2 linked regions of the Homo sapiens genome follow. The protein of the gene in region 1 purifies or fractionates together with the protein of each later gene. This does not show direct contact. Each region holds a gene or a part of one and is shown on either strand. Other genes may lie near its edges.

Region 1 (2,988 bases):
CTACTAATTTGAAAGCCATAGAAGGCATTTCAGATTTCACAAGAAGGAGCTTAGGTGAGTATATTAGGACCCTGGTCAAAAAGCCAGGCTGCAATCACCTGCAGTTTTTGTTGATTAATTTACCTACATGGAGTAAGTAGGCCTCATCTGATGTAGGTAATCTTCAGCAAGGGGACCTCAGGTTTTATGAGACTGTTGCTGCAGACTGATTGTGTGTTGACTTAAGACAGTTGTTCCTTAAGCTCTTTTTCAATTTAGCCTGTTTTCTCTTTCCATATTGCTATTCATAATATTTGGGGTTTGATATGAAGGGATTCCGGCTATTCAGTGACTTGTATGCGTCTTGAAAAAGTAGATTCTTATGGCTAGGGAATTTTAAAGGTAAAGGAAGCTGCACCATAAAATTTCCTTCTTCAAATAAAGTAGATCTGAAATGTTGGCCTAGATATGCTCCCATCCCAGATTCCCGATTCACGTTTAATTTTCAGAAGCCCTTTGACTTTTAATTACTATACTAACAATCATGTGATGATCCTTGACCACAGTTTGACTAGGCAACATACAAAATAGGGAATGAAGGAGCTGCAGTCCTTAATCCCTGCAAGGTTATGGGGATATATTTATGTCTGGAGAAAGATGCTTCATGTATAATCTATGGCATATGCAATATATGCATAGATATATTCAAGGCATTTAGTTATAAATGTACAGGCTTTAATTCCTTCAGTCATTTGCTCCTTGTACCTTTATAGAGATAACAGCTTTTGGGTATCTCTATGCATGTACACGGAGAAAATGACTGTGTAAAATAGTTATTTTACATAGACTAAATTTACATTACTAAATTTTATGTAAAATGACAAGACTTTCAGAGGAGGTGCATTCAATTGAATGGCTTTGATTTGAAAGGGCTGCTTTTAAAAATCCTTTAGGCTTTGGACCTGGTCATCTCATTCAGCTTTTTCTTATTTATACTGTTGTTTTAAACCTACGCTAGCACGCAATTCTAGAATTACAATAACTTTAGGTATCCAGGCAAGATACCTAGTATGTTGTAGGAAGTGGGACTGTAAGAGGCTAGAAAGAGGTGGAAGGAGGCGGGGACTTGGCTTGTAGGCGTTGGCGGTGGTTGTTTTTTGTTTTTTGTTTTTTTGCTTTTTTAATATTGCTTCTAAATCCCTGAGTGACGTTAGAGGCACTGGTTTGATGTTTATGGGCCTAATGATTGCTGCATTTCTTGCAGGTGAAGATATGGTTTCAGAACAAACGCTCTAAGTTTAAGAAACTGCTGAAGCAGGGCAGTAATCCTCATGAGAGCGACCCCCTCCAGGGCTCGGCGGCCCTGTCGCCACGCTCGCCAGCGCTGCCTCCAGTCTGGGACGTTTCTGCCTCGGCCAAGGGTGTCAGTATGCCCCCCAACAGCTACATGCCTGGCTATTCTCACTGGTACTCCTCTCCACACCAGGACACGATGCAGAGACCACAGATGATGTGAGTTGCCCAAGGGAACACCCTAGGGAAACGTCTGAACAAGGAAAAGAGGATCCGGGACCTGCTTGTATCTGCGAAAAGGAGCCAAAGGAGCAGGCTTAGGAGAGCTCATAAGTGTGGCAAGAAGCCGACTAGGCTCATTCTCTCTCCCTCTCTCTCTCTCTCCCTCTCCTTTCTTTTTACTTCTTCCTTTCCTCCATTCCTTCTTTCTTTCCTTTTCCTTTCTACCTTTCTTTTCTTTTTGCCTTTCACCTTTTTTCTCATTTACCTTCTCTCTTGAGCAACGTCAGTAATTGATCTTGCATCTCAGAGAGAGAGAAAGAGCATGTGTGAGAGAGAAACTGGTTTCTATGCCAGCACTCCTGAAACCCCTTACTGTAAGGATATTTTCTCTTACCCCTTGGGATCCAGGCTCTGAGTCTCTTCTCTTTGGGAGTATCCATCAAAATGACTTTTTTTAAAAACAGATTTTCCCCCAACCAGAAGAATCTGCACAAACTTGGCAGCGTTTTTACTTGTTTAATGAGTTTAAGACATTACATGGTGAAAGAGAAGCATTTTGGACTCCTGCATTTTTATTTACCATTCCCAGACTGACGAGAAAAAGAAAATTCCTCACATAACAGCCCTTCTCTAAAGAAAAAGGAAAAAGTGGCTGTAAGATTAGAACATTGCTACAAAGGGAATGCTGCATGTTTTATCAAAATGCAATGACCAGGAATGATGGTTGATTAAAAAAAAACAAAACAAAAACCACTCTTTCCCCACCCCACCCCCCCAAACCCTGAACTGGAATCAGGAAAGACGGAGGAAACAATCAAAATCACCATTCTATTGCTTTGACACCTTTACTAGGTGAATTGGTGGCATTCACAAAGCTAATAGGGACGTTTATATCAAGAAACATTTCTGTATATATTGTTGAATTTTAGTTGTACATATACTTTGTATGTTTTTGTCTTCTTTCATATATGGAGTAAAAGCCACAAAACGCTGAGTGTCTTGTATATTTCTCTCTCTGTGTGTCTCTGTCCCTCTCTTTCCTCCCTCCTCCCTCACTTCCCTTCCCCCCATTAAATTTTCTATCACCCTTAAAAAAATTCCTATTTCCTAATATGGGAAGTCATATGTATATATATGAACATCAAGTGCCTGCAAAGATGTCAGTTTGCACACTAGCCTTTGTCTTAGGTAGTTTAACATTAACCATGGATGTTCTTTCAACTTTCTTTACATATTACGTTTTTATTGTAATTTCTACACATTTACCTATGTTTTAAACATTAGAATGACCTATCCTCAAGTTAACTTCTAGACATCACAGTAGTTTCTAGTGCTGAAACTGAGTATTCTCCTTTCCCTTTTCCCAGCCAAAATAATACAGCCATATTTGTCTTTGTTTGGATGCAGTTTTTTAAAATATAGGAAAGAAAAAAATAGAGAGTAGAGTGCACAATTATGCCTACTTAATGTTTAAAACCCATTGCCAGCTAGCTA
Region 2 (3,500 bases), on another chromosome or scaffold:
ACCCCGAGGCACCCTCAGGTGGTATCCTGATGTGGGCAGCCTCCTCGTCACCACCGCGGCCCCTGGCCAAGCCCCAGCCTGGACCTGGGCCTTCCAGGAAGGATCTCTGGCCACCAGTGGCTCTCGTAGCGCATGACCTCAGGTGCCAGGAATGCGTGGTGCGGCGAAGCCACCATCTGGTTCCGATTACCCATGCTCTGCTCCAGGAACCTCATTCGCGTCTCTACTCCCAGCACCCGCCGGGGGGAGACTGATCTGGGCTCATCAGAGGCTTCGGCAGGAGGGTGTGAGGGGGACACAGCCGTGCCCACGTGGCTCTCAGCCAAGGAGTCACAGTGCAGGCGGTGGGTGAGGACACCTGTGGGTGCTGAGGACCTTCGGTCACCTTGCTTGCTCCCGGGTGGCAAGAACGCTCTCAGGCAGCTCACCTCCGAAAGCGCCCCCACAGGCTTTCCCTGAGGCTGGGGCTTTACAGAACCTGCAATCTCCAGGGCCTCTAGGATCAACGTTAAGATGTGACATTGGGCAGAGGGTGGCGCATCAGCCTCTCCGGCTCCCTGTCCCCTGTTCCTGGAGTCGCCTGTCCCCTCCCAGGCCTCCTCCTGGCCCATGCAACACAGGGCTCAGCAGGGGAAACGCCTCTCCTTCGATGTGCACCATGGGCCGATGCCCTGCCCAGCACGCCACAGCCACGCCAACCACTCCCTGTTCCTGGTTCTCCCTTCTGCTCTCACTTTCCAATTCATTAATACCTGGTCCCCCTTTTGCTTTAACTTTTCAATTCATCAATCCGGTCAAGTTCATCTCTGGACTGGAACATGCCCCATAAATTACAGTCCTAAGTTCCAGCAGCTGTTTCCCAAACACACCAGGAGAGACGAGGCAGATCTGGGCCAGGACGGCAGGAGGGCCCCTTCCTGGGGTCCTGGGCACAGAGGTGGAAACTGCAGAGAAGAGCCCTCCGGGGGCTCTCAGGGAAGCTGTCTGGGTCTTCAGCGCTTTGCTGTCAGGCTGGTGAAGGACAAGCCAGTGCCAAGTGAACACTGGACCCCATGGGGGCAGCCCTGCAGGATCCCTGCCAGGCTTGAGGAGGAGGGAGGGAGTGCAAGGGAGACGCCCCTTCCAGACATGCAGACCCAGCACCCAGAGTGGCTCTGCCTCCCAGCGCCCAGAGCAGCTCAGCTTCTAGCTGCTCAGAACGGGCATCATGATGATGACACATCCACCGACCACCCAGGCCTGCTAAGCCTTAGGAGACCCTTCCTCCCGGGGAGACATGAGAAGCTCTGCCGCTTACATCAGGGCCTTGTGCCCCCATCCCCAGGACAGCTGACGGATGGGTGAGGGATGGACACAGCTCTCCTGCAAGTCTACCATGTGCCTGCACAGGTTGGTGATGCCCACAGGGCACTGGGGCCGCTCACAGAACCCTGCCCCTCTGTGTATCCTAGTCTCACCAGGGCATGTCCTTCCGCAGCTCCACCATGTGCTTCAAAGACTCTGGTGGTGCCCACTCAGGGGTGGGCCTGACGGACCCGAGGTGAACCCTCCCCGCCCCACAGGGGCCAGGGCTGGGCAAGCGTGAGGCGCAGCAGGCTTGCTGGGGCTGCGGGCAAGTCTGCCCTGCCTGGGGGGCCCGAGGAATGCCCTCTCTGTGGCCTCCTGTCGTACAGACAGCCTGGACCACAGCCCTACAGAGAAGGGCAGCCCCGGGCCCTGTCCTTGGTGAGGCTGGGAGCTGTTGCTGCTTCTGCCAGTAGTCACCTCACGGGACATGCAGCTCCCCCTGGAGGCCCTTCACCCACTAGACTGGGCAATCTGACCACTCGCTGGCTATGGGTCTCAGGCTTCCAAGACTTCTGGTGAATGGGGGCTCCTTGTCCACCCCCCAGAAGCCAGGATGTACCCAGGCCACACCCAGCACCTCATCTCCCATGGTCTCTGCAGCCCCTGAGACTTGCACCAGAGTGAGACCTGGACAGGAGACTCCCCTTGCCCCCACCAGCCTGACCTGATCCCTCCCATCCCAAACAGGGCCACGTGTAGGCCAGGCCACCCTGGAGCCACAGGCCCAGACAGGGACACCACGGTGCCCCTCGAGCCATGCCAGCTAGGAGAGCCCAGGAGACACCATGGGAAGATCTTCAGCAACCGCCAGGTGGCCCTGAGGCTTCCCAGCCTTCCTGCTGGGCTTTCCTGCTGCCCGTGAGCAATGGCCTCCCTCGGGCCAGCTCCAGACCACCACGGGGGCTGCAGCTCCTCGCAGTTTTCCACACTGGTTTTTTTTTTTTTTTTTTGATTAATCAGTTCCTTACTGACCAAATTCCTCTGAGTTTTCACAAAGGGGTTTGAGTATTCCTGGACTCTGCGTGCCTTTCTCTAGATGGACAAGATGTGACGGCATGAACCCGAGGTCTGGGCGAAACCCAAACCATGTGAATGGTCTGCCAGCGCCCACGCCCCCTTCTTCCTGCGCCAGCCATGGACAGCCCCCCTGCACCCGCCTCCAAGTGATTAATTAGCCAGGGATCTGCAACAACTCCTCTTCATGCCTAAATATTGTTTCAGCCTATCAGACTGTTAGTGCAGAGCAGGATAAATGAGACCCGGGGCCTGGCGCACTGACCTGCAGGGCCTGCTGCCAGTCCAGGCTCCAGACAGCCAGCGCCTTCCCCGCGGAGCCTGAGATGCCCCTGGCCTTCTGGGAGTCAAAGTCAAGGTCCATGACGGGCTCCTCATGGCAGGCGATGCGGCTGCACACCTTCTGCTCAGAGACGTCCCACAGGACCACCGATCCATCCTCATAGCCGGCCAGAAGGAGTGGGCGGGAGCTGCAGTCGGCCTGCGGGGAACAGCAGAGCAGTCAGCTCCTGGAAGGACCCTGACTCCAGTGAGTTTCGGGGGAGAAGGGGCTCTGGAAATTCCTGCCCCTCCTGCTGGCTGGGGCTGTTTCCCATGTCTTCCACGTGGCTGCCACAGCTCAGAAGCTCTGCACCGCCAGTGCCCTCCCACACAGCCCCTGGATGGCTGATGCTGTCAGCATGGGACTGGCACGGCTGCCCTTAGGGCACCCCAAGGACATAGGGGTGGAGGGCAGAGAGCCAAGCCCAAGGCCTCCCACTGCTGTACCACTTCTCACCAGCCCTGCAACCTGCATGTGCCCACCCTGGGTTCTGCCCAAAGGGGTGATGCTGGGCACCCACCAGCCACTGTGAGTGCTGCCGACCCTCTCCACTTCTCCCATGCACAGGGACCTGTCCTCCTGCCTCCTTTCCCCAGGCCTAAGATGTGTGGCCACCACTTACTGGGGCTGGTCACCTGTCTAGAGCCGCCAGCCAGAAGAAACCGTGAGCTCCATCTCCATGAAAAATGAACTCTCTGTGCTTTGTCAAAGTGGCTGCCGAAGCCCCTGCCCCTGAAGCCTGGCGTGAGCCGCCCGAGCTCTTGTGATGAATGAGGGCGCGGGTCAGAGGGCTCCAAGCCCTGGGCAGACACCTCGT

What was found. The genes of interacting proteins can lie anywhere in the genome.
Region 2: the proteins of DLX6 (region 1) and GNB1L purify together in Homo sapiens (affinity purification with mass spectrometry; one large-scale study listed by BioGRID and IntAct). This does not show direct contact.

What each region holds. Positions count from the first base shown.
Region 1 is NC_000007.14:97,008,553-97,011,540, forward strand, and holds the end of DLX6 (homeobox protein DLX-6), read left to right. Parts: intron 1-1,243; coding exon 1,244-1,495; 3' UTR 1,496-2,488; downstream 2,489-2,988.
Region 2 is NC_000022.11:19,799,375-19,802,874, forward strand, and holds part of GNB1L (guanine nucleotide-binding protein subunit beta-like protein 1), read right to left. Parts: intron 2,843-3,500; coding exon 2,627-2,842; intron 1-2,626. UniProt on the Homo sapiens protein: Acts as a critical regulator of DNA damage response (DDR) signaling via specifically regulating phosphatidylinositol 3-kinase-related protein kinase (PIKK) family proteins.